Linked DNA regions of Homo sapiens: regions 2, 3, 4 and 5 are each linked to region 1. Evidence: fine-mapped expression QTL. A gene starts in region 1. Each other region holds a variant in brackets. All regions are shown on one strand. Distances are between the middles of the regions. Region 1 holds the start of CRYZ (crystallin zeta). Region 2 overlaps CRYZ (crystallin zeta). Region 3 overlaps FPGT-TNNI3K (FPGT-TNNI3K readthrough). Region 4 overlaps TYW3 (tRNA-yW synthesizing protein 3 homolog). Region 5 overlaps SLC44A5 (solute carrier family 44 member 5).

Region 1 (5,920 bases):
CATCTGCTTTGCCCAGTACTATCTGACTACATTATCCTATCAGGCTTGAAAGTGATGGGGCATGGCCTGACCACACTATCTCCTACTTTGCTTCTGTTGATCTTATCTCCCACTGAGCCTTTAGCATTCTGATTCATCAGGCTCCAACCTGCACTCATTGCCTTTGAACTCACCTATCCACGGGATCATCATATGCTTCATAACGATGAAGCCTGTCAAAGGAGATTACACAAAGAATAAAATAACGTGGCATACTGATGGCAAATAGGATAATACTTAAAATCCTGTAATACCGGATTTCTTCTAAAAAGCATAAGTCTTCCACCTCCATTGACTTAACTGTTTTCAGAACAGGTAGAGAAGTTATTTAAACTATTATTTTATGCAGAAGTAAAAATAAAATCGCCATCCATTTTATGGATGAGAAAACATCACAAGAGGTTAAGAGACTTGGTCAGGGTCACACAGAAGCAAAGCTAGAACCCAAGTCCTGTAATTAAATGGTGTTAGCTGATTTTTTTCTTTACCATCCTTTTCATCTCACCCTTTGAGATGCTGGCATATAAGACCCTTTACTTCGTAGAAATAAACTTTACAATAGTGATAGTGAGACAGATTGAGCTAGAAAATGTGAAATCAAACTAACCTGCAGGTAGAATCGCATATTTTATGACTAAGGCATCTGCTTAGAGTTTGAAATTTCTCAAATGCCCACTAAGTCAGGGAATGCAGCAGAAATACAAAGGACATGATTCTATTTTTAAAAATGTATAAAAAAAAATTACTCCCTAGCATCGGATCCTTGTGAACAGGACAGGCCTTTCCATTGCTTGTGCTTTTTAATTAAACTATACTTCAAATAGGCCTTCCTGTTTATCAAATATAAACTTTTAAAAATTAAGAGTCCCTTGGTTTAATTTTTGGTTTAATTTTACCTCTGAAAGGTTGCCAATATGCCTTACAAATCTAGGAAATAGAAAATCTAAAATCCCTCTTCCAACAGTGATCTTTTTCCTGGCTATGCTTGTATCCATTTGATTTAAACGAAAATTAAAGGAATTGGGAAAATGTTAGGAGTATATTTTAACATAGGATGAACAGATCAAGTCACAAAGCCAGAGCAAAGGAACATTATGAGACAAGAGCAAAAGTAAAATTAAATAAGAATTCTGGCAAGAATTTTAAAAACTGAAAACTTAGAAAAAAAATCAATCATTACAAATTGTTCTGCTGCTAATACACAATGACTCATGTAAGCATATGGTTTATTATTAACCCAGAAATGTAAAAAAGGCAAGAATTACAAGTGGTCAGAGAAAGTCTCTTCCTGGCTGTGTGATCTTATCAGGTCACTTCTGTTCACTTGAGATAGGACGGGGTAAGAAGAGGGGAGGAGTTTAATAATTTCGGACTCCTCCAGGTTCCATGATCGTATGGAACAGGGCAGTCTGTTCCCTAATGCTGGAGGAGTAGAGCTTGGAGAGATTTGCTGCTGAACTCGCTGCGCTAACCAGACACGTAATCACAGTGGCTTCAGAGGGACTCGCACAACAATTTCCATTAGCTACGGACAAGCATTCCAAACTTTAGCCTTTAGGTTTAATCATTGACACACCTTCCCTGGTCACTGAGTCTCCTCTAGAAACTCAGTATAAACATCCAACGATGTGTTAACAGGGTGTTTTGTAATTTTCTTTTGAAGATTATTCTAGGTGGTGGGCGTCACAGGGTCAATAAAACTATACATTTCTCTCAAAGACTGCAATCCTGATGGCAAAGCTGGAGGAAGCTCCGGGAAACCTGTAATTGTGGGAATCCAAGACAAAAAATCCCCCACAGCTGGGCTGTGGGAAGGGGCCCTACCTAGGAGAAGAAATCAAATCCCCTACAGCTGGGCTGTGCGAAGGGGCACTACCTAGGAGAAGAAATCCCCTACAGCTGGGCTGTGGGAAGGAGCCCTACCTAGGAGAAATCCCCTACAGCTGACAGGTGGGCTGTGGGAAGGGGCCCTACCTAGGAGAAGAAATCAAATCCCCTACAGCTGGGCTGTGCGAAGGGGCACTACCTAGGAGAAGAAATCCCCCACAGCTGGGCTGTGGGAAGGAGCCCTACCTAGGAGAAATCCCCTACAGCTGACAGGTGGGCTGTGGGAAGGGGCCCTACCTAGGAGAAGAAATCAAATCCCTACAGCTGGGCTGTGCGAAGGGGCCCTACCTAGGAGAAGAAATCCCCTACAGCTGGGCTGTGGGAAGGGGCCCTACCTAGGACAAATCCTCTACAGCTGAGAGCTGGGCTGTGGGAAGGGGCCCTGGACAGACCGCTGGGCGCTGCTGCAGGAATCCCCAAACCCAGGCACTGGCTGCAGGGAAAAATCAAGCGGGTGACTGGCGGGGGGGGGGGGGGGGGGTGCAGCGTGGGGCTGGGGGACAGGGAGTGCGGGGGGCGGAGGCTGGGCAGGGGTAGTGCCAACGGACACCTCATGGTGTGGTAGCCTAAACTCAGAGCCTAAACGCAGGACCAGGGCTAGGAGCCCAGGACCAGAAGGCAAAACTTCCTACCTGATTTATGGATGGGAACTTGCAGCCCCTGGAGGGGAATGGCTTCGGTCTGGAGCTCTACGCACTAGTTCTCTGGGAGGACAGAGGGCAGGAAAGGGGTGCAGCCAAAATCAAACTCGGTTCCACTTGGACGAGCAGTGGGGAGATTCGCTGTCTAAACAACTAAGGAGAGTTTTTAAAACCACTTACCAGAATCTAGAGTGGGAATTAAAATCTGCGTGGGCTTCTTCAGATTCCACAGAAATGAGGACTGCCACACCTTCTCCAACTTTTGCAGGCTCCACCCAGGATGTGCGCCTCGCTCCACCCAGGATGTGCGCCTCTCTCCACCCCTAGGCGAAGGCACTAGAATTTCCCAAATTAAGAACGAAGAGGAAGTTTGGACCTTTTCGGCCACCGCTCGCTTCAATATGGCTGCCCCCAGGGAGAGACGAGGCTACCATGAAGGAGCCGAGCGCAGACCCTGAGTCCGTCACCCATGGATCGCAGCGCGGAGTTCAGGAAATGGAAGGCGCAATGTTTGAGCAAAGCGGACCTCAGCCGGAAGGGCAGTGTTGACGAGGATGTGGTAGAGCTTGTGCAGTTTCTGAACATGCGAGATCAGTTTTTCACCACCAGCTCCTGCGCTGGCCGCATCCTACTCCTTGACCGGGTGAGGCCCCTTTGCGCCTGTCCATCGCCTGCCTTCTAGTGCGAAACTTCAGGAGCCCTGTTCCCATCCAGTGACGACCGGATCCAGCATGTCTGTGTTTGCTCCTCTGAGGGGTGGTCTCTGTTTCTTTATATGTGAAATTTAGGGGATTAGATCAGTGCTTCTAAAAGTTTAACGTGGCTATTAATCAGCTGAGCATCTTTTAAAATACAGATCCCGATTCTTTAAGTGTAGGGTAGGGCCTGATACTGTGCATTTCTAACAAGTGCCCAAATGATGTTGAAACTGCTGACCTGGGAACTATCTTGTGTGGCAAAGTTTAGAAAATTTGATTTTATTATATGAATACTAAGGGAATCTAAAGACTTTGTAGCTTGCTAAGGTATTGAATGCCGGAATCCGCTCATCAACAGCTCTGGCAAATCATTGTTACTGCATGCTTGAACATCACCAGTGTTAAGGAGTTTACTGCCTCCTAGTGAGCCCCTCCATTATTACAACTCTAGTAGTTTTACGCAGAGAAAAGTACGATCGTATATAATTTAGGATGGTTAGACTTTTTTTTTTAACTTTATGATGGGTTTACAGGGGTAGTAAATGCATTTTGACTTACATTTTCCACTTATGACGGATTTATTGGGATGTAACCCCATCATAAATCAAGAAGCAGCTGTACAAGCCATACCTCCTTATTTGCAGGTTCAGTTACCCCAGTCAACAGCAGTCTGAAAATATTAAATGAAAATTCCAGAAATAAACAATTAGTAAGTTTTAAATTGCATGCTGTTCTGAGTAGCGTGATAAAATCTTGAGCCAACCAGCTCCTTCCAGAATGGAAGGTGAATCATCCCTTTGTCCAGAATATTCCACTATATATTCTTGCTGCCCTTTAGCTGCTTGGTAGCCTTCTGGGTTATCAGATCGACTGTGGTGGTATCACAGTGCTTGTGTTCAAGTAACTCTTATTTTACTTAATAATGGCCCCAAAGTACGGGAGTAATGATGCTGGCGATTTGGATCTGCCAACAGTAAGTTTTAAAGTGCTTTTTTGAAGTGAAAAGGTGAAAGTTCTTAAGGAAAGACTTAAGGAAAGAAAAAACAGCATATGCTGAGGTTGCTAAGATCTACGGAAAGAATGAATCTTGTCAGTGAAATTGTGAAGTGAAGAAGGAAAAAGAAATTGATCTGAGGTTTCAGGCATCCACTAGGGGGTCTTGGGACATATCCCCTGAGGATAAGGCTGCTTGGGAGTGATACTGCTTAGATTAAAAACCACGGGCTATGTGACCTTAGGAAAGCTATCTCAACTCTGCCCCTTCCTGTTCTATGAACTGAGGATAATAAAAAGTATCTGCTTTATAGGGATTTTGTGTGGAGAAAATAGGATAATTTTTTTTGAAATATTTGGCTTTGTGCCTGGCCCATGCACTGTAAAAGTTGGCTGTGTACTGATTTTATTCGTAGTATTGGCTTAAGAGCATGGAAGACAGCACATTGTTAGGCTCATTCTTTAGGTCCATTATTGACTGATCATTTATTTGCTGATCTCTCAAGTTAGCAGGGCCTGTTCATTTTTAAATCACTTCCATCACCTTCAGAGCAATGGCATTCTTGCCCACAAACTCTCTCTTGCCCCATTTCCATAACTCTGTCTCGCCTTGATTTTTGCAATGGTTCTCTAACAAGCCACTTAACTATTCTTCTCCAAACCATGTTTGACAAATTGCAACTCTGCTTATCTCTCACCTATGCTATGTTTTATTACACATTTTTCTACATCAGAAAATCCAAATGCTTACTCTAGTATACCTTTCAACCTTTTTTTCATTGCTTTTCTTCATCTTTAGCTAGTTACTGAAACTAAACTGTTCTTTTCATCTTGTATTTACTTGCTTTTGCTCATGTTTTTTGGCGGTTTTTTTCCTGAAATGTTTTCCTATCTCTGCATATCTGAGACATGATTCCCAAAACTCCCCTCTCCCACCTGAACCCACAAACACATACTACCTACTTGGAAGTAATGACTGCTTCTGTACTGGTTAGACTTTTATTTCTTATCTTACACCTCGTATTATGGTTTATTTTAAAATCTGCCTTATTTCAGTAAGGATTTGGGGCAACTTACAAACAGGCAACACAAGAAAAAATAAAAAGTGGGAAAATCTGGATAAAGAAAATATAGATAAGATGAAGCCAGCGATGGCATTAGTTGCCAATCCCACCACTAGATCCTGTAAAGTTGCTAGAAGTGGGCCATACATTTGGCTCTAAGATTCAGAGTAGCCAGCACAATGTCAGATACGTAAGTCACCATCACCGAAGTCATACAATGAAGTCAAAATATTTATTTAGGACATGCATAGCAATTCCCGGTTCCAAGGGCAGACAGCAGAGTCTCTTGTGGATCCATCGTATAAATTATAGTTACTTTGAGTATAGTGATTTCTGTTCATGTGGTTTCCTGCATCCCCTTTCCAGTGTCCTTGAGGGGTAGGTTCTGTGTATACCCAAAGTACCTAATAGAACTTTGCAAATAAACATTTGTTCAATTTAAGTTAATATTAAAATGTTTGCCTTCATGAAACTTTGACCTTTCAGTCTTAGCTCCATCCTTCAGGACTACATCTAAAGTCTAATTCAGAGGTCACAAATTTATGCCTCTAGAGACCAAGGAAGTATTATAAATGTGTAAACGGCATAGGTGACAATA
Region 2 (6,810 bases), 25 kb before region 1:
CTCAGACTCTAGGTACTCAATAAATACTTGTTGAACTAATGGATGCACAGAATAATCTGTTAGAGAAGCCAGAGGTACAGTGAGCAAGGAAAGCCAGAGGCCTGGAAAGTTAAATTTATGGTTTTATATCGACAGCCCACAAAAAAGTCAGCTGAATTTGAATCTCCTAGTCATGTGACCTTTGGTATGTTGATTCACCTTTTTGGGCTCAGGGTGCTGACCAATTTGGTCTCTAATACATTACATGACTAGGTCACACAAGTCAAAGCAACCAGGAACAGAAATCCAAAAGACTGAGTTAAACAATGTTTGTTTATTATACAGGTTATTCTCTACTTTTCATCAAGAATGGGCACTGAAGACTATGTAGTAGCCCTAAGGCCACAGGCACCAACCAAGTAGTGAATGCAGTTGGCTGAAAGTTGGGACAAGACTAAAACCACAGAGATTTATGCAGAGAACATACCCAGTGCTACATCATAAATATGGTAGTTAATGCACACAGTTTGGCTAGTTTTGGCTTCAAAATTAATTAAACTGTATCAATGTATTTTGAAGTGTTAAGTCATCTGTATGCTTTAGCTCCTTCTATAGATGAGGCAAATATACAAACAGATTAAACTGACTTTTACAGAATAATTATTCTTTTACCTTGTTTACATGGAAAGGAATCCTCCATTTTAGGATGCACATAAAATGCCAGCCTATGTTGATGACATTGCCTTAACACTTTTTTTTTAAGTAATTTTACAGGGTAGTTAACCTGTAAAAGAAACAGTGGATAAACTTGAAAATGCTAATAGCAAAAAACACTTCAGCCATGGCACATACAACCAGAAGCCAATGATATCCTTCAACTATAGAAATTAGCGGTGTTTTCTGTTTATTCCTGAAGCAGGATTCCATATTCAAGCCAGAAATTGTCATTCAACAGAAAAAATCAGGTCAAAACAATCAATCACATAATGTAGCAAGACAAAAGTATGTGCTTATGTGAAGAAAAACAAAAACAACAAATAACCGAACTTTTATTTTCTTGAATATAATATTGATGGCAAGATTGCTAAGAGGTCATCCCTGTATTTAGTTTAGATAAAGGCTTCCAGCATAGAACACTGTTAAGAAGTAACTGTCAGGAGCTATGCAGAAGTGATGAGAGGCAAATAATATAAAAACTAGAAAAGCAGGTTTTAATTTTCTATAGACTTTATTACACATTATTATGTTACGAGACAAATGCAGATAATTCTTAATTTATCAAATTTGTGAGCTTAATTAACAAAAATATTTGACCCTCACCAGAAAAACAGATAACTCTAAATCTACTCTGAAAATCTAATCAATTGCGAAGTATTACCTATTTGGAGACTATGTATTATATCAAAGATAAAGCTACTATTCTCACAGAACATATGGGGTCATTGGCAGCCAACCAATAATGAAGTAAATATTCTAATATTTGGGAAAATACTGAGAAAACTAATAAATTGTCCTGGATATTATTTATTCTTGCCTTTACAAAAGACTTACACATCCAAATGAGATTAGTTTAGAATAGAGGTTTTTAGTTCAGAAAATGTTCAAAGTCCAATACAGTCATGGCTAATCAGAGACTAGAGAACCTTTATAAAGGTAAGTAGGCTTGAAAACCCTTGGAAACTGAGCAGTCTTATTTTGAACTAGCATGTTTTAATCAAAGGTATGGAATTAATCAAATATCAATTAAGAATTACTGGAATGCACACTCATGCCAAATGACAACTAACATGTTATTTCCTACTATGATGACTCTTTGATTTGAGACAGATGGCATAAAAAAATATTGCTAGCTATACAATAAATTTTACTCTTCTGCTTCTGCTCTCTAAAGAAAAATCTTATTTTTTCACATAAGAAGCTCATGGAATCGAATGTTAATTAAAGAAAAGATAGGGTAAGTACAACTGGGGGAAAGACAGTACCTCTAATTACATAGGAAATCCATGAAAGAATTAATCATCATAAGAGAAGAATCATTTTTCCAGTAGCCCCACTACCATGAATGATATTTTCATGAGCCTCGGCCACCTTCTCCAATGGATATTGAGAACCTATCACAGGTTTCAACCAGCCAATTTCCATTCCAGCTTGAAGGGCTGCTGCATATTGCTGAAATTCCTCCTAAGAAAAGGAAAAACAAATTTCTTTTTGTAGTGAACCGTATGATTTAATTTTCAGAAGCATTAAAAACACTTCAGAATCTAAGTGTTATACCATGAAGAGTCTCTTACAAATGTGTGACTTTTGTCAACTTGTCCAGAACTATAGAAAAAGTAGTTATCTACAGGGTAACCATAAATCCCATCTGCCTGAGACAGTGTTAGTGTACAAAATACCTGTTGTCCTGAAATTATTACTAGTATCACATTTCTATCTCAAAAGGTATGCTTACCTGGATATAAATTATACTGTCACCCTAGTTGTCCTTCTGGTGACTAATCCTTACCAACTCCCACTAGTCATATAACTAAGTTTAACATCTATTCAAACTTTCAGCTTGCCTGAGTAGGCAAACTGTACCAATGTTTAAGTTACCAAAATCAGAAGTACTTCTTTTCCTACCTTGGTTGAGGAAAAGAGAGTAACTCCAATTATACTCGACTCCTTTGCCATGGTGTCTCGTGGGTTTATTTCAATAGTACCTCTGCTGCCAACAACCTAACATGAAAAACAGCAATTCTACAGTTAAAGATTACTGTAAAATAGTGTTAAATTGTGGTAAAACATTAAAGTGGTAAAAAAAAAAAAAAGAAAAGGAATACTTACTATCACTCGTCCTCCATGTGACAGAAGACTCAAGTCTTTACTAAGATTTACATTAGCTAACATTTCAATAATTATATCAATTCCTTTCTCACCAACATACTTCTATATAATAAAAGAGAAATGTAGAGTAAGATAGCAAGTGAAAAACTGTAAAATAGCTACTATCTGTACAAGATATTATAGAAATATGTTTCAAATGATATATAAATGCTACATCTTTGAGACTAATAATGCAAAATTTTAAATAATCTAATTATATAATCACGATGTAATTCCAAGGTACCAGCCAGAACATCTAAACTGATAAAAATTTGTACTAAATACATTGCTGTAGTGAAATAAAGTTTGTCTGGAATTTTCAGGTGCTAGACTCAACTTGAGTATAAAATACTTAGCTGAAAATTTTCTATCTGTAAAATAAACTTTCATAAAGAAACAATAAATCAAAAGCCCCAAACCCCCAGGGGGCTCCCATTTTTATTAATAAACAAAAAGCAAAAGAAGATATCATTAGCTGTTCGGTTTTGCATGATTTTTGTTGTTTTAGTGCATTTGGTTTTGTTCTAAATGGTTTATCATCTGTTTGATGCACTAACTCTTTTGGGCTCTTGGATGTTGGACGCTGGCTCTTACAAAAAGCTACACACATCTACATTATATTCATTTTATTTTAACACACACACACAAATGAATCCCTGTGCCCGGGATTGCACTAGGTACCAGGAATACAAATACAAACATAGGGAGCTCAAAACAAAACTAGTGAGAAAGATGGGAAATACTACAGTCATAGCTATAAAGTAATGGGCTAAGTAACACATTAGCAGAAATAAATCATAGAATACAGAGAAAAAAGGTTAAGGTTTGATTGCCTGCCATGGTCAGATAAAGTTCCACAGAGACGATGAACTGGGCCCTCAGGGATGAATAGGAGTTTCCCAAGCCAAAAGAAAGGAAAATGAGTAAGGGGAAGCTAGACCTGAGGCTGAGTCAGTCTGGACCAAAGAAACAGAAAAGCAAAGATGGAGGGGACTGAGAACACAAGGATTGAAATACAAGAGGAACTGAAGTACATAATCAGGTAAGGGGGAGTGGCA[A/G]GGAGAGGAAGAGGTAGGAGAGAGGAGACTGTAAGTTGGGACAGATAGTGAAAACACAGTGAATGCCATATTAAAGGATTTGGATTGTGTGGGGTTTTTTTTGTAGTTGTTTTGTTTTGTTTTTTTATTACAGGGGTTTATTACTGCATGTGCAAGTGCAGTAGGGAACAGAGAGACAAAACTCCTCTCCTCATAAAGCTTCCATTTTATTTATTTCTGGAGATCTTTTTTAAGAGGGAGATGACAGCATAGATAAAAGGGTGTATTAGCTCAGTTATGAATAACAGTCAAGGCTGGAGAAACTGAGGCCTAAACTAAGTTATGGTGGTCAGTGGAATAGAGATAAGGAAATACATTTGAAAGGCATGTCAGAGATGAAACTGATAAAATGAGGTAACCAACTTGCTGGGTGGGAGGGAGAATGATAATTAAAAGACAGGAAAAACAAACAAAATGAGGGTTTCTGTCTTGGGCGACCAGATGAGTAGCAATGTCTAGCGGGTTGATGGCATGAAGGAAGTGAACTCAGGCCAAAGACAGTTTTGGAAATCAACAGTATATGGGTAGTAAGGGAGCCACAAGAGTATATGAGACTGATCAGGATGAAAGTCTAGCACCAGGGAAGATGAGAGACCAAGCAAAAACAACCTAAGGAATATTAATATTAAATAATATGAAGAGGGCGGAGATTGAAAGTGAAAAGTCAGGAAAGTAAGAAGAGAACCTGTTTCAAAGAAATGTGGTCAGGGTCATATGCTCCTGAAAAATCAAACAAGATGAAGACTGAAAGAAGACCAGCAGACTGTTAATTAGGAGCTTCTCAGTGACCTCTGGGAAGCAGTATAAATACTTGGGCTATAAGCAAAACTGCAGTGAGAAGTGGTGGAAGGTAAGGAAGTAAAAGCAATAAATACTACTTTTTCAAGAAGTTTTGTGGGAAAGAGGAGAAGAGAAAGGGGAGTAAGATAAAGGTTAAGAGAATGTTTTTGAGAATGGGAGAGACTTAAGCAGAAGGAGTCAGTGGAAGCTCCCAAGACCTCATGGTCTTAAAATTAGATTATTGCTGAACAAAAACCATACTCTTAAAATAACGGGCCATTTTTCATCTTTGTGAATATTCTTGGATAATGGTATCAGCAGTGCTAGATCTTAGGTTCCCCAGACGTATAACAAAGGAGTGCTTTTGTTCGGCTTTTTGGCAAGATGATTGCAAAAAAGGTAATAAACTCTCACTCTTATTTTTTCCTTCATTTGTAATGATCTAATTTACACAGTACTCAATATTTGGGAAATTCTAATCTCCCTAACGTGAGGAAGTGGTTGAGGATTAGCAAAGCAATAAGTGTTTAGCAAATTGCTAATATAGTACAAGTGAAGAACTTCAGAATCTGCTTGAATTCTGTTAAATGCAGCAACTAAATAAATGCCACCTCACCATTTTGGATGCAGTAGTGATTATTCCTCCAAAGCATCCAGCTAACAAATGAACTTTATTCCCTGGGCCACACAGATCCAGTTTGTAATTTACAGATATCTCACCTTCCATGGAGAATTCACATCAGTAGAAATTATATTAAGAATACCTCACAGCTGCAAATACAAAGCTGCAGCTTTACTTAGAATGTTATTTGCATTAAAAAATCAATTTTTATAGCTATAAGATTCTAGAGAAGCTATATTCTATTTAATACACATAAACAATACAAAAATGATAGTAAAAGTTTAAAACTTAGACATCTGTTTTTTAAATAAAGTTTTAAAACACGCATAAAAATTCATCGCACTGAAAAAAGGAAGCAAACAGCTTTAAAGGAGTAGTTGGTTAAAAACATATTAAAAAACCACGCAAGTCTCCAAGGAACAAAGTTTGACTTTTGTAAAACAGTGGAAAATTTTACCTTAATTTTATCAATGTAATTCACTTCTCTGTGATTGAACACTTCATGGGCTCCATTTTGCAAAACAATCTTTTGTCCTTCCTCAGTACCAGCAGTGCCCAAAATCTTTAAGCCATAAGCTCTAGCAATTTGGCATGCTGCTAATCCAACCTGAAAAACAAATATAACCCAAGAGTTATATATTCTCTACACTCCTGTAAACACTTAAATACATACAATGAACTTAAGATTCCTATAGGACCCACCCTAACTTTAAGGAACTTAAGAGTGTAAATGAAGAAATAAGAAAAACAGCTAACTTTAATTGAGCATTTAAAATATTCCAGGAACCATACTAAATAATTTCTACATATTGTTTTATTCTATCCTCACAATGACCCTATAAAGTAGATACTATTATTGTCCCTATTGTACAGATAAGAAAGTTGAAGCTTCAAATTATAAGTAATTTGGCCAAGTCATATGCGGAGATGGAAACAGGAGTTAGACCAGTCTGACTGCAGAACTTGAGTTTTTAACCACTGCATCAAGATGTTTGCAGGGTTTAAAGATGATCAGAACATGCTCTCTGACTTCTTTGTGCATATGAAATTCTAAATAACAAATGTAAGGCCTCCACCATTTAAGTAGAAGAGATAGGTATATGGGCAAATTAACTAATTCATCCATATGGTGAATGTTTATAGAGTGTTTACGATGTGCTAGACATGGTACTTAATGTAAGAAATAAACTTATATTCTAAGGGTGGAGGAAGATAATAGTCATATGAATGAATAAAATAAATTCAGGAAATAAAAGTGCTAAGAAAAAATAAGACTGGCTGTTGGGTTAAAGAGACAGGAATAGGGGCTATTTAGGTCATCAGGAAGAGCCACTCTGAAAAAATGAGACCTGAAAAAAGTGAGGAACAAGCCACGAGAACATCCGGTCAGCCACGTGGAGGATGCTGTGGGCATAGTGAATGGCCATGGCTAACCTGGCGAGGTGGGAATGCAGTTGGGGTCAAAGA
Region 3 (6,810 bases), 490 kb before region 1:
TCTTATAAAGAGCATTCCTGTGATAAACAATTATGTTATGTTGCCTGACATCAGCCTTTCTCTAAACATTTAGATAGCAAGGAGACTGTATACAATGCCCAAAAAGGAACATTTAAACTAGCATGAAACGTAAAGGATCACTGATGTAAACAGTTTTTCATTTGCTAACCAATTTCTTTATGGCATTCCCGGTAGATGCTAATTTCATTCATTATAAGAGATTTTTCACCACATAATACACCATTGCTCTATCAGCTCGAATACACAATCTTCCTGGCATAGCTTTTACCCACAACATAATAAACAGCAATATAGTGCTAAATGTAAGACAGAAAGAGCTAAATAGTTATCCTGCTTATGCCAATTTATAGCAGCTTTGGAATGGGAGCTTGATGTGGGAGAGAGGGGAAATGGAAATGGAATGTTCTTTCATCTTCTGCTATAAAGTTGCATTCACTCATAACTTTGGACATTTGTTTAGGTAATGGATTGGTGACAGGAAGAAATGAAGAAAAAGAGAAGGCAGGAGGAGAAAGAAAGACAGAAAGGGCACCTTAGAGTACCATTGTCTGATTATATCCTCCTCTGTGCTGCCTCTAATCTTTATCAACATAACAGCACTTACTACATGGTGTTGTTTTTATCCATTTATAGGTCTATCTCCCCACTAGTATATGTGTTCATTAAAGGCAGCTTTTTTTCTTATTTAGCCTTATTTATATTTGTACTTATTTGTAAAACAAACTAATAACTTAGGGCTTACCATATGCCAGAAATGCTTCTACGTATCTTTTTGTGCATCAGCTTATATAATCCTAATGGTGTATATGTAAAGTGCTTTAGCACAGTGTCTGGCACATGGCAAACCCTCAAAAATGTTAGTTAACACTTAATCATTATTGTTTATGTTAACAACCCTCTGAAGTAAGTGTTGCAATTGCCATGTTATACCTGGAGAAAATGAGGCTAATCAAATTAAACTGGCTTGAACTAGATTAAACAATTTGTATGATTTACCTAGGATTGCATCCATCTTTATTTGATTTCAAAATGTATCATATTCATAATCTTGGTTATGAATATTATACAACCTTTTTGAAAAAACTATGGAAGTGATGGCTCTCCACATGTGACTTCAAATGTTTTCAATTAAATTATTTTGTTTCAATAGTTTTTATCATAATAAATTTTAAGACTATGTTTTGCTAATTTCATTGTCAAGCCAAATTTGTATCTGCTTAATCTATAATATGAAATTTAAAACCATGAGAATACTCCAGAAAAGTTATAATTTTTCTTTTTCTTTTTCTTTTTTTTTTTATTATACTTTAAGTTTTAGGGTACATGTGCACAACATGCAGGTTAGTTACATATGTATACATGTGCCATGTTGGTGTGCTGCACCCATTAACTCGTCATTTAACATTAGGTATATCTCCTAATGCTATCCCTCCCCCTCCCCACACCCCACAACAGGCCCCCGTGTGTGATGTTCCCCTTCCTGTGTCCATGTACTCAATTCCCACCTGTGAGTGAGGACATGCGGTGTTTGGTTTTTTGTCCTTGCAATAGTTTGCTGAGAATGATGGTTTCCAGCTTCAACCATGTCCCTACAAAGGACATGAAGTCATCATTTTTTATGGCTGCATAGTATTCCATGGTGTATATGTGCCACATTTTCTTAATCCAGTCTATCATTGTTGGACATTTGGGTTGGTGCTTAGTTCCAAGTCTTTGCTATTGTGAATAGTGCTGCAATAAACATACATGTGCATGTGACTTTATAGCAGCATGTTTTATAATCCTTTGGGTATATACCCAGTAATGGGATGGCTGAGTCAAATGGTATTTCTAGTTCTAGATCCCTGAGGAATCATCACACTGACTTCCACAATGGTTGAACTAGTTTACAGTCCCACCAATGGTGTAAAAGTGTTCCTATTTCTTCACATCCTCTCCAGCACCTGTTGTTTCCTGACTTTTTAATGACTGCCATTCTAACTGGTGTGAGATGGTATCTCATTGTGGTTTTGATTTGCATTTCTCTGATGGCCAGTGATGATGAGCATTTTTTCATGTGTCTTTTGGCTGCATAAATGTCTTCTTTTGAGAAGTATCTGTTCATATCCTTTGCCCACTTGTTGATGGGGTTGTTTTTTTCTTGTAAATTTGTTTGAGTTCATTGTAGATTCTAGATATTAGCCCTTTGTCAGATGAGTAGATTGCAAAAATTTTCTCCCATTCTGTAGGTTGCCTGTTCACTCTGATGGTAGTTTGTTTTGCTGTGCAGAAGCTCTTTAGTTTAATTAGATCCCATTTGTCAATTTTGGCTTTTGTTGCCATTGCTTTTGGTGTTTTAGACATGAAGTTCTTTTCCTTTTTTTTTTTTTTTTCAGACGGAGTCTCGCTCTGTCGCCCAGGCTGGAGTGCAGTGGCGCGATCTAGGCTCACTGCAAGCTCCGCCTCCTGGATTCACGCCATTCTCCTGCCTCAGCCTCCCAAGTAGCTGGGACTACAGGCACCCACCACCACACCTGGCTAATTTTTTGTATTTTTAGTAGAGACGGGGTTTCACTGTGTTAGCCAGGATGGTCTCGATCTCCTGACCTCGTGATCTGCCCACCTTGGCCTCCCAAAGTGCTGGGATTACAAGCATGAGCCACCGCGCCTGACCCAGAAAAGTTGTAATTTTTAAACACTATGACATCAACATAATCCAAAACAACTTTTTTGGCATTGAGTAGATACATCTTGGTCAGTAATTACAGTGCCTCACTTTAAAATTGACTAGGTTTAATTATGTACAAAAAAGTGGTCAAAAGAATGCTCTGTTCCATTAAATAGTCACAATGTATAGAGGAAATAAAAAAATGTTTTCTGAGATACACCTTTTTGTACCTTTTCTCTCTGAAAAGTTCATCTGAGGCCTGTTGCATTCCACTATACTCATCCTTAAAACAAAATATCTTCTAAAATTATTGCACTATAGCCAACTATGAAATTTGGCTATTATAAGATGAATAGCACTGGAAACTTTTCAAGCTGATCTTATTTAAGAGGAGTAGACCCTTTCTGTCAAACTACTAAGTAGGATATTGAAGGGGAAATGTCATCTTATAATTAACATAGAATGAAAATATTATTTGGCATGTTTGGTAGTGTGTTTTGCCAATTAGCCACAAAACAAAAAATAAGAATCGTCAACAACAAAAAAAACCCTCAAATCCAAAAGGAAACAAAGAATTCATAATGCCCTAAGTCAGTCTATTTCTCTAATTCTTTTCTTGTTTGTCCAGGTAAAACTAGTTAAGAACCATAATTTTACAGGAATATCTTGTGAAATCATTGAGAAGCAACTTGACCTCAATCTCTCTCTGCCTCTCTCTCTCTATCTCTCCCTATTGTTCTCCCTCTCCTTCTCCATCTGTAGCTCGCTATCTTTCTATCATTTTCTCTCCCCCTTACCCTTCATCTCTTCTTCTTTTCCATCCTGTACCTCCATGATTCCTTCTTTCCTATCCCTGTTTTGAAGAGCAAAACAATACAAAAACAGTAAAAATAATATCAATGCCTTAATAGAAATAACTATTATAGCAGCTAATATTTATAAAAGCTTTACAAGCTCTAACTTATTTACACTTCACAACAATCTTATAAGATAACAATAATTATGCCAATTTTATCATATCTGTCACT[CTAACTA/C]TAATTGTTTATTGTATGAATGGCTGAATAAATGAATATACTTCACAGTATTAGTTTGCAGATTTTATTTGCAAGATATCAAACAAATATATTTCTGGATATTTCTTGGAGATATATATTAGAAACAGATCTTATTGATATAGTCTGCTTCTATTGTTTGGAGGGCATGGGGCAGGGAAGAATCTGCAATGAATAGGCAAGAAGTTGCAACTAGCCATTTGAAACTTAAATGATCAATTTGGGAAACTAGACAACCCATAAAAAATCCTTACCTTCTTTCTACATTCTTGGCTTTTCCCTAAGTTTTAACCAATGAATTAGCTTTAAAATATATCTACCTGTCTGAATACCTTGGAGAGCAGTGTGTTACTTTTTGGCCAACTGTTCAAATGTTACATTTTAATAAGTTCCCACTTGTGGTCATGTTAGATATCTTCTTGAAAGGATGAGGTCATGAAAAAGAAGTTTAATTGGATCACAAAACTGCACACTTTTCTAGGTCAAAGGTAAAGGCTAGGAAAAGAATTCATTATGCTACAAGAAAGAAAGTAACCTTTGGGTACAGAACTATCATTTTTAATGATTAAGAACAGCATTTACTATTAGAAATATATTCATAATAGTGGCTTTATTTTAATTAGGAACTTCATTCATGCCCCAGCATGCACTATGAACTCTTTAGGATATGTTAAGTTACAGTGTGGCATGGCAGGTGATGAAAAATGTAAGGGGAAATTAAAAAATAAATTGAGCTTAGGGTATTAGAATACATAAGTGATGCTCAATTGGCAGTGAATTTGACATACACAGTTACTTTAGAAGAGGCAAAAGAAGAGAAAATGGAATTTCTCTCCTAGGAATGATTGCTTAAATATCTTGAATATTTTAATTACATGTTTCAAAACAGAAACGTTTGACTAGAAGTTAATGGGAAGTGAGAATTAGGATTCAAATATAGCCCCCAAAGTAACTCTCATTTTAAAAATGTACATTCCAGTTATTAAAGTTGAGCTAAAAATTGTACTATTAAAAATCACACTTGACTGCCAAATATTATAGGAGTCTATTCTCTGTTGATTCATTTTGTTGACATTAAGAGAAGCTGCATGAGTTCAAGGAGGATATAATTCAAGAGGAGAACAAAAGCAACAAGCAGCGGCTCAGTTTAAAGCAAGGAACTCTTTAGGACTCTATACTGAGTCACTTATAGATGGTAAAGTCTAGTTCAAGATTCAGTTAGCTGAGGAACAATTGTTGAATAAAGAGTCATTAATTTTGCTTTCAATTTTATTTATGTAAATGATAAACATTCATCTAGTGCCTTTCTTTTTTAAAAATAAAGCAATGGACCCTGGCATCTTGTATTTTCTGTTTATTCCATGTTCATTTGTTTTGCAAAGCTGATCAGAGTATTAGATATCAGGACGAACACAGCAGTCAATTTCAGGATTTTATCTAGTATGTGTATTTCCAGGACTGATGCATTCAAAGGATCCGGGATTTAGTGAGTAGTTTATATCAAGGAGACTCTTGAAAACAACCTGAAGTGAGCCTTAAGAGCAGAAGTGAGGCGTATAGTAGGTGTTTAGCAGGTGTTGTGCCAGACTTATTGAATGGATCATCAAATTTAGATCACAGAATAAGAAAGCAATTGAGTTTACCCTCTCAAATAAAGTGATTTTCATCTCAACTTTAACTTTTTACCCTCCTTTGCATTTTTCATTCTTTGAGTCTCTCCACTGTTGAAAATGTAGTAATATTAAAAGTTCGAGAGATCAAGTTTAAATAAGAGAATCTCATGTGCAGTTCTGTGTTCTATGTATAATTTAAACTTTTCAGAGCACCATGATGAATAAAAATTATGTATACATAGAAAACAGACATCTGAAAGTAAACTCATTTCACTCACACACAAAATCTCACATAATATCTACGGAGAAATTCAGGAAAATCCTTCCAAAAAGAAAGGTGGGGGGAAGTAGCATCTGATAAGATATTGGAAAAAAGAATATAATCCCAATGTATTACAACTTCTGCCTGAAGCAAAGTTCTCTTGTACTCTGACTGGGTCAGATTTCACAGATAAAGGTCTAAACTCTGGTAGGGTACTCTGATATAGTCCCTGGTGAGAAGTGGAGTGATTCTATTAATGAAATCCTTGTCTTTGTCTGAACAAAGACCATTGCCCCAGGAGGGCCCTTGAGAGCCACAGGTAGCCTTTCAAAAGGAATGTAAAGCTAAAATTCTCGACCTCTTGAGGTCCACGGTGCTCCCAGGACATTTTTCAGTAGAAATGAGATCATATCCTTGGCTTCACAGGTCAATTTCAAGCTGCCTCCTGCCTATTTAAATCTCTAGCAGCTTTAGAGAGATAGCATAGTATTTGGTGAGTGAGCCAAAGTTTCATATCACTTGTAAAGTACTTACACTTGAAAGGTACTATAAATTCAGAACATTATCATCAAGGCATCCAGTTAAGAACATCAAAAGCTATTGGAATTTTAAAATAGAAAAAGAAAAAGTGCTATTCTCCAGGGTACTGCTAAAAAGAGAAAGGCTCTAAATCCAGGGTCATTGAAGAACCTCAGTGAAATGCTTTAATTAGAAATGGCAAGCCTTGTGGTTTATTTTCACAGCCATGGGAATGCAGTATTCCCAAACTTTTTTTACCCTCCTACCCTTCTTGCTTTCTGTGTTCCCCTGCAGCAAAACACATAGACATGCTTACTAATACTGGGAAACACACCTCAACTTGCTTTGGAAAGCCTTTTGTGGAAGTACAATAAACTCCAGTGTTTATAAATGTTAATAATATAAGAAGGGGGTTCAGAATTTCATGAAGATAGTTAAGAATTTAACTCACTTCTATCAGCAATTTCCCTCAGCTCAAAAAATACTGCAATCAAAATCATTTCTGATGAAAATGCCACTGTTTTAAATGTCTACTTATAATAAAATGAGCCTACTTATAAATGATAGAGCTATTTATGGTATGGCAGTAACTTCACAAAATAACATGATTCTTAGAAATGTGTGGTCTTTGGCCCAGCCTGGCTTTTAAACCCTCAAAGCCAAATATATTATGGATGTCTTGGAAGAAAGTAAACT
Region 4 (6,810 bases), 35 kb after region 1:
GCATTTGAGGAGGAATTGAAGATTTTTCTAATGAAAAGAAAAAGGGTCACATGAACAGATGTTGCAGTGTACCTGTGCCAGGGATTTCATGTGTACACTTTATAGGAGAATAAGCAAGAGCTTAGGTAAGTTATAGTCCTTACCATTGGGTCTAAGGCAGTTTCCAGGAAAGCATGGCAACTCGTTCAGCTATGTAAGTTGAACTCTGTACCACTTGGGAGGGAACATTCCCCTAGATGACAATGTCAGTGGCACTCGAAGTTGTGCAGTGCACATTCTTATCTACCAACATATACAGCAGTCCTTCTGGGAAGGAAATTTGGGCAGGAAAGGGAACTCACAGTGTCGGAATGCCTGGAGCATTTCTTCTAGTCTGGTGGACAGAATATGAAAGTATCTGCCTGGCAGTGCAGTAAATGAAAAGAGAAGATAAATGAATAAAAAAAAAAGTTATAAATAACAGTAGGAAAGAGAGAGTGCAGGTGGAACGAGCCTATCCTGTGGTGAAATGACAACACATTCTGCAGTTTTAAAATCTAAGAGGCTCATTGACTTTTCTTCATTCATTTAAATTGATCTCCAAGAAAACTATGTATTTTAAAGATTCCATAAACTGAATATATGAATGAGAATTAAGAAGAGAGGGGCTGCTTCCTAATCTGTTTATATAAGGTATAGTATAGTATAATCTGTTTATATAAGGTTAGTAGAGAGGAGACACCAGGTGCTGGCCATAAACCTAAGAAGACATTGAATCCCATTCACTCCTTAACATTCCTTAATATACATTCATGAGCTACATAACATTTTAATCATCAATGATGGACCATATACCATATACGATATGGTGGCCCCATAAGATTATAATGGACCTGAAAAATTCCTATTGCTAGTGATGTGGTCATTGTAAAGCTGTAGCACAACACATTACCCACGTTTGTGGTGACAGTCATATAAAAGTATGGTACATATAATTATGTACAGTGCATACATAATACTTGATAATATGTTACTGGTTTGTGTCTTTGCTATGCTTTTTATCATTATTTTAGGGTATACTACTTAAAATGTTAACTGTAAAACAGCTTCTGACAGGTCCTTCAGGAAGTACTCCAGAAGAAGGCATTGTTATCATAGAAGGTGACAGCTTCATGTGTGTTATTGCCCCTGAAGACCTTCCAGTGGTACAAGATGTGGAGGAGGAAGACAGTGATACTGAGGATTCTGACCCTGTGTAGGCTTAGGCTAATGTGTGTGTTTATATCTTAGTTTTTCACAAAAAGGTTTTTCCAATGTTAAAAAAAATATATAAAAAAGCTTATAGAATAAGGATATAAAGAAATATTTTGTACAGCTGTACAATAAGCTAAGCATTATTACCAAAGAGTCAAAAAGTTTTAAGAAATTAAAGTTTATAAACCAAATGTTCATTGTGAGCCAAGGTTAATTTATTGAAGAAATAAAACATTTTTAATGAAATTTTGTGTAGTCTTAGTGTCCAGTGTTTATAAAGTTTATACAGTAATACGTTTATACAGAACATCCTAGGCCTTCACATTCACTCACCACTCAGTGACTCACCCAGAGCAACTTCCAGTACTGCAAGCTCCATTCATGGTATGTGCCCTGCACAGATGTGCTATTTTTCACCTGTTATACTATATCTTAATTGTACCTTTTCTATGTTTAGATATGTTTAAATACATAAATACTTATCATTGTGTTACAATTGCCTACAGTAGTCAGCACACTAACATGCTGTACGGGTTTGTACCCTAGAAGCAATAGGCTCCACCATGTAGGCCCAGTAGTGATGTTTGCGTGACTAAATCACCTTACAACCCATTTCTCAGAACATGTTTCTATTGTTAAACAACACACAACTATTTTATTTATGTGTTTTATTTATGCCTGATCACCAATATCAATAACTGAAACACAGCAGTTTAGTAATAATTTAATACACACCATAACCTGCCTATTGAGAATGGCATTATATTTGTTTTCATTGTAGTGGCTCCATCCAAAATAAAATGATTTTTTTCCTTCCTTCAGGATGAAGGCAAGCATTTATTCCTACGGTCTGGATTCCTCATATCACCTACAAGTTAACTGCTTTTGTGTTCTAAAAGAGAGAGGAAAAATGAAGTCAACCTTATTGAAAAACAAGGAGGGAAACTAAGGAACATGCTTTTGCTTTTGAGGTTCTAGGCCAGAAGTCATAAGCTGTAACTTGTCCAAGTTATGGCCAAGCAGATATGTTTTGTTTGGCCCACATGGAGTATATTTTTTCTAATTGAATCAACATTTTAAAATATGATGATTTAATATTTAAAACTATAAAGCGCATCTCTAGTTTGTTTTGTGTGTGTTTTTTTAATTGGAAGATCTGGCTGGAGCCGTCTCACATTCCCACAGGACAACACTTAGCCGTTCAAGTACTAGCTCCTCCTTTTGGATAAGACTTGTTTTCCTATTCACCCCAGACCCAGCACCCCCTACTGGTTCCCTGACACAACTGCTTCAATCATTTACACATTGTTTGGTCCCTGTGGGCACCAGCATTGGCAAACTTTGGTTAGATCTTTGGGGAGAATTAAAGTCTATTATTATGTTAGTATATTATATAATAAATAAGAGATGGGAGCAGGATCAGCTATATAATTTTCAAAGGACAGTGCAAAATGAAAATGTGGGACCCTTAAAAAAGGTTTAAGAATTACAAGATGGCAACAGCGGAGCACTAAATCACGTACAGGTACATCTAAGCACGGGGCCCTATGCAAGCTGCACAGGTTGCACATACGTGAGGCTTGGTGCTTTAAGGGAAATGGGTGCCTTCCCACTCAACTGGGTGTTTAACCCTCCTCCCCACATTGAGAAAGAGGCAGAGTGCTGCAGATTCTGTGATGTGCCAGGACTTGACTCCTGCTCACATGTGGCGCCCTTGGGTTCCAGGACAATGGGTAGCTGTTTGGAAGCCTGCAAGGGTGGATGTTTTGGAAGCTAGGGCAAAGATCTCAGTGGCTACCCTTAGATGGAGTAAACCGTAGTCCTTTTCAGAGCCACTTGATTTCAAATGTGAGCAAAGGCAGTGATGAGCACCACGTTTTGAAAACAAGGGCTTTCTCCATTTTGAGATGAGTTATATGATTTGCTGGGTTAAGTGTTGAAGAGCCATGAAAAATGATCACCATCTTTATTCTTATAGATGGCTCCTTGAGCAGGCTTTAATTTGACTGGAGTTGCGGGGAGTAAATATTACACTCCCATATAAGGTGTATAATAGTGACTATTTTTTAGTTATGATTTTTGGCTTTTAAAAATGGGCTTTGACCTTCAAGCCTCTTCTTTCCATACTCTACTGGGCTTCTGTCAACATTCACGCTTCTCTAATGCAATAGGATTTTAATATTCACAAATGCTAATGTTTTTAAACTTAACAGTCCTTTAATGTCCTGGGTTTTTATGCATTCTATTCTTGCCAAGCAAGAATTTATGAGCCCTTTTTGGTTTTGCCTTTAATGTGGTTGAATTTAAACTATAACTTTAACTCATTGCAAATTTTATTTATTTATTCATCTATTTTAATAACATTTTTTGGAACAGTTTTAGGTTTACAGAAAAATTGAGAGAAAAAGTTCAGATAGTTCCCATGTACCCACTTCATCTGCCCACACATGATATCCTTTATCTTATATATCCTACATCTTACATTAGTGTGGGACTTTTTGTTACAATTGATAAGCCAAGATTGATGTTTCTTGACTAAAATCCATATTTCATGCCTCTCTTCATCTCTCTTCAATTCTGTTCTCTCCTGTAACTATTAGTCTATTAGTCCTATATTATACCTACTTATGGGCCTATTCTCCATATTGTCTAATCTTTTCATCCCCCTTCACCAGCTTCTCTTCATCTCTATGTGTGTCATTCTGTGTCATTCACTCGGGTTATTGTTTAGTTAACTCATACCCTC[T/A]TCAACTGTGTCTAATCTACTGCCTAGATAGTCCATTGAGTTTTACATTTCAAAGATTATATTTAATTATTTCTAGTTCTTTTTGGTTCATTTTCAAATCAGAGGCAGATTATTTAAAGGTTCTAATAATTATTTCTTTCTATATACCTTTTCCCAGATATTTCAATAAATTATATTTACACAAACCTTTCATACACTTGTATATTATAGAAATGATCTATGTTCTTTAGCTATTCCAAGGATAATTGAAAAGAATGTCCTCACCACCACCAAATCTAAACCATGCAAGAAGAAAGTGAACTATTTCTCAATAACCAGATTGTTTACATGCCATTTTTATTATTTATTCATTTACATGACAAATATTTTTTGAGCACCCACTATATGTCAGTCACATGCAACAGGACAAGGACTCTGCCTTCATAGAGCTTTCCTTCTAGTAACATTATTAAAGATTTTGTTTGTATTGGCACTTGCCTAGGATCTTTAGTGCTCTTTAAATTTTACTCATCAATCAGGGCTCAGCTCAAATGTTAACTCTTTTGAGAAGCTTTCCTAAAAGCTCATTTCATAATTAACTTCTTACATTCCTGTTTTTCCATAGCACTTTCCCAGTACTATATATACATAGCATTTTGTTTATACTTACATAACCACACAAACCAAGAAATCTCTTGGTAGCTATTAATTGCATACATATATATCTATCCATCACCACCATCATATTAAACTTTGACTAACTGAGGGACAAAGCTGTTTTTCCAATATTTTTATATCCCCAGCATCTTGGACGTTGTTGTTTTTTTAACAACTACTTTCTATTCTGGTTTATAAATGCATTGTAGCTGGGAGAGTTCATGAGTATTATGTAATTCATTATTTTATAAGCAAATGACAAAATCCCTAACCAAATTATATTACTATTCAATTCTTGAAGGAATCTTGAAATTGATAAAGTTAAATGACTGAAGTTAAAAAAAAGATGCTTAGAAGCCACTAAACACATGCATAATACTATTCTTTATATCTCACAAAATATCCAAATTTCCAGATGTTAGTATTCCAAGATATACCTTGTGACTAAACATGATAGGTCTTGTCTTTCTTTTTTCACACCAAGCCTTTTGAAAGCCTTTTTATTTTGAAATAACTTCAGATCTACAAATAAGTTATAATAGCACTAAGAATTCCTGAATATACTTTACCCAGAGTGACCATTCTCTCTCTCTCTCTCATATACAGACATACAGTACATATGAATAATCTCATATAAATATACAAACTTTTGAGAGTAAGTTAAATATATTTTACTCTTCACTCTTAAATATTTCAATGTATATTTCTTTAGAACCAGGAAAGTCTCATATAATCTCAGAAAAATTATAAAATCAGGAAATCTAACAGTTATACAACATAATTATATAATCTGCAAAACTTATCCAAATGTCATCATTTGTCCCAATGATATTCTTTGTAGGATAAACTGAATTGCATTTTGTTTCATATTTCTTTAATCTTGTTTAATAGTACATAATTGGTTATAAGCCTCTGCCTTTGATAACATTGACAGGCTTGAAGAATACAGGAAAATTTAATAGCCATCGATTTATATTTTTAATATTCATTTTTAACTAGGTTCAAACTATGCATTTGGAGCAAGAATATTATATAAGTGATGTGTTCTTGTCAAAGCATGACTTCAGTGGGTACAGGATTTCAGTTTGTCCCATTATTGGTTATGTTAACTTTGATCTCTTGGCTAATGTGGTGTCTGCTAGGTTTAATGGTAATTTTCCCTTTTGTAATTAATAAGAAATTTTAAGGATGCTCTACTTTGAGAATATGTAAATAACCTATTTTTATCCAACTTTTACCCACTAATTTCAGCATCTGTTGATTATTCCTCTCCAAATAAGTTATTACTATGATTGCAAAATAATGATTTGTTACCTCCATTATTCCTTCTACATTTATTAATTGGCATTCAACTTTAAAAGACAGCTTTGCTTTCACACACTCTCCCCACATATGAACTCATGGATTCTTGTTTGATTCAAAAGGTTATAATCCATTGCTATCATTATTTATTTTAATGTTCATATTATTCCAGATTTGACCAGTGGGAGTCCATTCAAGTTGACCCCTGTCTACTTTTAACGTATCTCTTTCAGTGTTTGAGCATCTCCTCATTATCTTGCACAAGGAGGCCTTCCAGGCTCATCTTGTACATTCATCTCCCCCAGTCATAGAATCAGCCAAAGAACCCCAATTCGTTTCGGTGGGGACTGGCATTTAGAAACAAAGTTCCTAAGCAATAAGTGTGTTCATGACAGCATTTTCTCTTTTTAAATTACAGAATTATTCATCAGTCTATAATAATCAGTAAATAATCATTATTCAAAGGTTAGATCTTATAGTTTACATCGTCCATGAGATGTGTTGACAGAAATGACATATAAAACTGTCTACTAAGTTCATTTCTCTGTGATATAGCAGCGGGAATGTTCATATTAATATACTGAAATACTGTCTCATTATATTCATTTAATGAATTTTTTTATTCCTCAGCTTTTCATATCAACTCCCACCTATTTTCTGTGACATCATAAGACTTAAATAAACTGTCCTTAACTCTTTGGAGAAAATAACTTTGCAGAGATCAAGAAATATTGGCTAATTTCATTATACTTAACAATTGCCAATAAATTATTCAAACCTGTTTATCTTTGTGGCTAATTTTTAATGATGCTTTGAAATGAGGCAAAAGCAAATGTATAAGTCATGTAGACTAACCAGTCTCTCCTACAGCCACTGTCTCCCACAGCAATAGG
Region 5 (6,810 bases), 830 kb after region 1:
GATCTTGGTCACACATTCTTTTCCTCAGAATCAAAACAGGTAAAATAACTTATTATAATTATTAAATAAAAGTCATAAGCTTACTGATGAGACTCAAACAAGATTCCAAAAGGTCTCAGACAGTAGCCAACACTAAATGCTTCTTGACCATCTGCCACATTTCAGGCACTGTGGTAGAAGTGCAGCTATTGACTTGCTCACAAGAAGCCTGTTATCTACTAAGAAAAGTCTTATTAACATGAAACCATGAAACAATAAGAGTATATATTCTTAAAGTGTTAAGTGGAAATGTACAAACTATTAGAAACTACAGTTTGTATATCTATATATACACATATGGAAATGATATATATGTAATTGTTAAAGTACTTTATATATATATATAAACAGTTCCTAATAGGTACTCAGTGTCTGGCTCAGTCAAGCGTAATAGGAAATCATGATGAGCAGTAAAGGAAAAAGAAGCAGAACTGGAATAGGGTGTTAAATGATTTACAGAATACAAACAAGAGGAAAGCAGAACAGCCTAAATGCTAGGAACTGCACAAGCAAAAGCACAGATCTGGAAATGCACCATGACTGAGGGAATTGGCTGGGACATAAAAAGGAAAGCTCTGGCTATCATGGTCAGTTAGCACCAAATATTGGATCTGATAATATCGGATAGTTCACTTGGAAGCACTGAGTAGTATATTGAGAACTTTGCATTTCACCTAGTGAGCAACAGGCAAAGGCAGTATCTGAACTGGGATGACATTTCATTCAAGATTTTTATATGCACTGTTCACAGTACAGAGTATATGCTTCTTGCATACACATTCAAATGTTTATCACATGACATCAAAAGCATAAGCAACAAAAGAAAAACTATATAACTTGGACTTCACTAAAAATTTTTAAATTTTGTGCTCCAAATGATACAATCCGAAAAGTGAAAAGACAACCCATAGAATGTGAGAAAATACTTGCAAGTCATATATCTAAAAAGAGACTTGTATCCAGAATATATAAAGAAGTTTATAACTTGACAATAAAAAAGACAAATAGCCAAGTAAAACATGGGCAAAGGATTGGAAGAGACATTTATCCAAAGAATATATACACATGGCCAATAGCACATGCATAGATGTTTATCATTAGTCATTGGAGAAATGCAAGTCAAAAACCACACTGAGATATCACTTTACAGCCACTGGAATGGCTATAATCAAAAAGATTTAGGCAGTAACAACTGTTGGTAAGGATGTGAAGAAATTGGAACCCTCATACATTGCTGATGGGGATGTAATGTGATTCAGACATTTTGGAAAGCAGTTTCACAGTTTCTCAAAAAGGTAGAACTACCATATGATACAACAATTCCACTCCTAAGTATATACCCAAGAGAAATGAAAATATATATCCATAGAAAAACTTGTACAAATATGTTTGTAGCTACGTTAACAATAGATGTACTGTGGAAATAACCCAATGTCCATCAAGAAATGAATGAAAAACAAAATGTGGTATATTTTCATACAATGGAATAATATTTAGCCACTAAAAGTCTGAATAAAGTATCCAAAATAGGCAAACCTATAGAGACAGAAAGTAGATAAGTGGTTGTCTAGGATTGGCAGGAGGTTGGAGGAATGGAGAGTGACTGCTAATGAGTTTTGGGTTTCTTTTAGGGGAGACAAAATCTTCTAAAATTATATTCTGGTGATAGTTGCACAACTCTGTGAATATCATAAAAGAAAAATGAAATTGGACACTGTAAATAGTTGACTGGTATAGCATGGGAATTATATAAAGCAGTTTTTACAAAAGTACACTTTAAAAATTGCCTGGTTTCTAATTGTCCCAGTAAAGTTTTGTCTGTGGCAGATTTGGTCCTTTGCCTCCCTGTGCCCCAAGACTCAGCCAGTGCCTCCAGAGATGGAAGAAGCTCAGTTTCTACTCACTGAAACAGGCTTGTCCCTGAAAAAGATGTTTATTAATCACCTATTACGAATCACCTACTATATCTGCAAATCAGTTGACATTTTACTCAGATTTCTAATTTAGTTACCTTTTAAAGGTATGTTTTCAGTATATACCAATAAATACCAATAAATACATTAACTATGTTGATAACAAATTATGTACCTCATCCTATTTAGCTACATCTGATGTAAAAGTCCTAATAATAAGGTTAAAAACTACCTCTGATTAAAACTACTTCTCGCCAAGACTCCCATTCATGTGTCCACAGGGTAATTCAACACTTTGCCAGCTATTTAGTTGTGGCTTCTTAAAGGAAACAAGATGTCAGTCTCTATTTTCATGGATCACTTTTATCTGAAATCTTTTCTCTGCATGATACAAATTTACTAGAATCATAATCTGTCCTTTGTAATATGTCAAAAAGTGGAGAAATCAATTATGTGTAATTATACATGGAGTCTCCCAGTATACTTTCAGAGCTTATTATTAGTAAATTTCATGACAAAAGAAGGACAAGAATAGAAATATTTCATTACAAAGAAACGAGGATAAGGTAGTTGTTTTTTCAAATTACTCTTACCCTGACTTTTTTTCATAGTATTTAATACCCACTGGCATACTTTACATGCATTTGTCATTTTACTTTTATTATTGTCTGTCTCTTCCCAGAGGAGTACAAGTACTATGAGGAAAGGAACTTTGGTATTTTTCACTCCTATGTCACTAACACCTATAACATTCAATACTGTAGGTCCTCAATATTTCAATATCATAGGTATTCAATAAACACTGAATGCATTTAACATTTAGGAAGCATTGGAAGAGTCCTACAATTGCTGGCTGAATAAAATTAAAAGGAAAATAAAATGCTTTTACATTTTAACTATTTTATCTCACAAAATCTCTCCAACATCCTGATAACCCTATCTCTACTGTTTGCAGAATAAGAGTTGGCATTTTCAACTTGGTCAGCAAACATGTTTGAGGTTATCATTCACTGTTAAACTATGGTTATTTTAAATTCATTGTGTATTATTATTGTAATTTACCATAGAGTGACAGTTATAATCTGATTTGCATTGGAATAAGCAAAATGAGAAAATTTTATTTGAAGATGCAGTTGTACTTTTTATCAAGCCATCATTAATGTAATATTTTTTGTTATAAGAACACAATTTTGG[G/A]AGGGAGGGAGGAGGTAAAGGAGAAGAAAAGATAACTATTGGGTTCTGGGCTTAATACTTTGGTGATAAAATAATATGTACAAAAAAAATCCTGTGACACATGTATACTTATGTAACAAACTTTCACATGTATCTCCAAACCTGAAATAAAAGTTAAAAAATAAATTTAAAAAATTAAAAGAAACACAATTTTAGGATATTTTGATAAAATTTTGATGAACTCCTTCTTGGAGGTAGTCATATAAGAAATACTAGTATTTCCCAGATTTTTTATTATTTGAATTTTTTTCTACCCCAGATCCATCAGCACTCCTCTATGGAAAATGTTTTTAATTCTTAGACTTCTTTCATTTTGTTTTTAGAAATAAACCCAAAAACTATATCACCAGGTTTTCTACAATTTTCTTATTATTTTTGTAAGTGAGAATTTTAAAGAAATTGCTAAGATAATATAATTTTTAGGCCAGGTGCAGTGGTTTACACCTGTAATCATACCACTTTGGGAGGCTGAGGTAGGCAGATCGTTTGAGCCCAGGAGTTCAAGGCCAGCCTGGGCAACATGGAGAACCCCTATCTCTATAAGAGTTACAAAAATTAGCCGAGTATGGTGACCTGCACCTGTACTCCTAGCTACTCGGGGGGAGGATTGCTTAAGCCCGGAGATGGAGTCTGCAGTGAGACATGATGGCTCCACCGCACTTCAGCCCAGGTAACAGAGTGAGACGACTCTGTCACAAAAAAATATATATAATTTTCGTCTCTTAAGTCTTGAGTAATTTTTCCTTAATCCTTACCTTATGCCAATTCAGGATCTGTATCCTCTCACAGTCTCTCTTTCAAATGGGTGATCACTTATCTTTCTTAGTGGTCTATTATTTTTTGCTCCTATACTCTGTTCTAGCTGTCATGATACCATAGTAATCCTCAATATGTGAAACAACTCAAGAAACAGTTCAAGGAAAAACACTGACATTTTTACAAAAACACTTGTATATTACACTTCAAAAGTTTTGGTCTGCTTGAGGTTAGTTTGTGTTTCTTTCAGCTACTGAAATGTTTCTTACCTTTTCTCTTTGATACGCAATCATTACATTCTGTGGATTTTAAATATAGATTACATATATCTTAATATCATCATAATGTAGTTTTATACAAGAACTCTTTATAAAAGTATGGATATAAAAGAATCCCTCCTTTGGTAGGAAAATAAAAGAATTTGGGATGTAAATTGAGTTTCACAGAAAATCTCAAGAATAGTTTTGTTTTAGTGGGAAATGTAAAACTAAATTAAGCAGTTACAGAGATTAACAGCTCAGGACCCATTTCCTTACTAGCATATTAACACTGAAGAAAAGTATCAGAAGATGATGAAAAGATAAGGGTAGATATTTTTTTTTCAAATGAGTAAATGTGTCACACCTAAACAAGAAAGGGTCTTATTCAGAAACCATTCTGTAAAACATGTACTTTGTCTGCTCTACATACTCTGCATGCCAAAATCTTGGCTGAAATTTTCTACTGTATCATCCCAGTTGAGATATTATATTTAATGCCATTTAGAAAAATTATTTTTACATATTATTTTTAAATAATAGTAAAAAAATTCAGAATGACTAAATGAATACCTTAAAATAAATTATACAGATAGCTAAACAAATAATTTAGAACATGGTTTTCTATACTGTTCTAGAGGAACTTACAAGTCTCCTATAAAAGACAAGCCAAGACCGTGGTCTTGGTATCAAATGTAAATGAAATTGTTATATTTATAAGACCGCATTATCCTAAACCACATAATAAGTGCAAATAACATAGTTGTTCTATTGCATTATATATTGAGGCATTTGACTCCATCAGTTTTCAAACAGGTGTCTGAAAATCACACAAAAAGCTTATGATTTCCAGCTCTGTCTTAAAGCAAATCGTAAGAACTGTCTTCAAAAAGTTATATTGGAAAAGATTCATATTAGCAATAGAGAATATAGGGTAAAAACTGAATTATACTGTTGAAATTTAAAATCTGTAGCCTCTAGCATGTAGGAAAAAAGAAAAAAGAAAACTGGTGTATTACCCCTCTCTACATATTTAGATGGTGACAATTCTTGCCATCAATGACATCAAAACACATTTTCACCAAATACATCAGAACACTGTACAAATACACACTGGCTCCTTGTCACAAGTTGCAATATGCTGATCAATATCAAATGGGCTAGACTGACCTGTGAAAACAAAAACTACTGTAATCTACTGTGCTAAACCCAAAGAAGCAGTTTACAGGAAAATTAGAATTGTTTCTTCATTGGGAGAATTAATTTCAAATTAAGCATTCTTAATTTATGTCGAAGTGATCCACTGGGGTAAAGAAAGAGCAAATTTGATTTTCAAGCATTAACATCACTATCAAAAGCTTATCAATTTGGGTATCATGATTTTGAGAATGAATCACCTTCCTCTCATAAGTCCCCCAAAAGGATTTTTTTTGCAATCGTTTTTATTTTTCTACTCAGAGAAAAGCTTTGTAATTAATTTTACATAATCACCAAATAGAATGAATAATCTGGCTCTTTACCTGAGAAGTTAGGACCCATGATCTTTAACTCCATGGCTTCTGCAACCCTGATTTATTTATTTACTTTTTTTTTAATTTTTATTTATTTATTTATTTATTTATTTATTTTTCGAGATGGAGTCTCACTCTGTCGCCCAGGCTGGAGTGCAGTGGCACCATATCGGCTCACTGCAAGCTCAGCCTCCTGGGCTCACGCCATTCTCCTGTCTAAGCCTCCCAAGTAGCTGGGACTACAGGTGACCGCCACCACCAGGCCCAGCTAATTTTTTGTATTTTTAGCAGAGATGGGGTTTCCCCGTGTTAGCCAGGATGGTCTCGATCTCCTGACCTCATGATCCACCCACCTCGGCCTCCCAAAATGCTGGGATTACAGGCGTGAGCCACTGCGCCCGGCCTATTTTTATTTTTATTTTTAAGTCCTGGGGTACATGTGCAGGATGTGCAGGTTTGTTACACAGATAAACATGTGCCATGGTAGAATTTTAATATCTGCAAATGACCTAGAACCATTAATGTTGAGAATCAGAAAATAAATGATTAGAAATAATCTATAAGTTGTTGACCATTACAAACATTTATCTGAAGTCTCTTCCCCAGGTTAAACATTAATGAGGTTGCCTGCCCCAAAACCATCACTATGCCAGCCTACTTTTCCCGACCATAACTGGTGAAGGAGTCTTCAATCTATTTTCATCGGAATATTCTCACATTAAATTATGCTGAAAACAAAAGCATTCGCCTTATTGGAAGGATGCAAAACACTGATTAGTTCATCCTCAAAATGTTTAACAAGATCTCAGCAGGAGACAAAGAGAAGTCTAGAGAGAACAATCAAGCTCTTGGTAAAACGAAAAATTCAGCTAGCCTCACAAAACTGCCACTAATGCACAAAGTTATAACAGCAGCAGTTAATTATGGCCAATGCTGTATCCTCACGTATGGTAACAAAATTTATAACTAAAATGTATCTATATCAGAGTCTTTTGTAGAAGTGGGATAATTCTGTAAAGGGGTCCTTGGCAGAACTATTCTTCTAAATGGCCATAGCCATTTCCATTTTTGCCACACATATTTCTTTCTCCTTCACTCCAG

Evidence for each region. PIP is the estimated chance that this variant, and not a neighbour inherited with it, causes the effect.
Region 2: its variant is fine-mapped to the expression of CRYZ in lung (GTEx, PIP 0.91).
Region 3: its variant is fine-mapped to the expression of CRYZ in spleen (GTEx, PIP 0.97).
Region 4: its variant is fine-mapped to the expression of CRYZ in unexposed skin (GTEx, PIP above 0.99).
Region 5: its variant is fine-mapped to the expression of CRYZ in prefrontal cortex (GTEx, PIP 0.98).

Annotation. Positions count from the first base shown.
Region 1 is chr1:74,730,209-74,736,128 of GRCh38, forward strand. CRYZ (crystallin zeta) reads right to left here and starts at 2,842. Exons shown (of 9, transcript NM_001889.4): 1 at 2,748-2,842. TYW3 (tRNA-yW synthesizing protein 3 homolog) reads left to right here and starts at 2,944. Exons shown (of 6, transcript NM_138467.3): 1 at 2,944-3,210. The coding sequence starts at 3,037. RefSeq lists enhancers at 1,639-1,928, 2,524-3,234, 2,789-3,078, 3,459-3,558.
Region 2 is chr1:74,704,298-74,711,107 of GRCh38, forward strand. It overlaps CRYZ (crystallin zeta), which reads right to left. Exons shown (of 9, transcript NM_001889.4): 6 at 5,801-5,950; 7 at 2,806-2,907; 8 at 2,602-2,697; 9 at 1,189-2,160. The coding sequence ends at 1,999. Among named protein-coding and RNA genes, the nearest start is that of CRYZ, 25 kb to the right of the region's middle. The variant A/G (reference allele first, on the strand shown) is at 3,903.
Region 3 is chr1:74,239,475-74,246,284 of GRCh38, forward strand. All of the region lies in intron 4 of FPGT-TNNI3K (FPGT-TNNI3K readthrough), which reads left to right. The region is part of intron 2 of TNNI3K (TNNI3 interacting kinase); the gene reads left to right. Among named protein-coding and RNA genes, the nearest start is that of TNNI3K, 7.5 kb to the left of the region's middle. RefSeq lists an enhancer at 5,740-6,391. The variant CTAACTA/C (reference allele first, on the strand shown) is at 3,697.
Region 4 is chr1:74,765,199-74,772,008 of GRCh38, forward strand. TYW3 (tRNA-yW synthesizing protein 3 homolog) reads left to right here. Exons shown (of 6, transcript NM_138467.3): 6 at 1-1,479. Among named protein-coding and RNA genes, the nearest start is that of TYW3, 35 kb to the left of the region's middle. The variant T/A (reference allele first, on the strand shown) is at 3,980.
Region 5 is chr1:75,558,809-75,565,618 of GRCh38, forward strand. The region is part of intron 1 of SLC44A5 (solute carrier family 44 member 5); the gene reads right to left. Among named protein-coding and RNA genes, the nearest start is that of SLC44A5, 49 kb to the right of the region's middle. The variant G/A (reference allele first, on the strand shown) is at 3,147.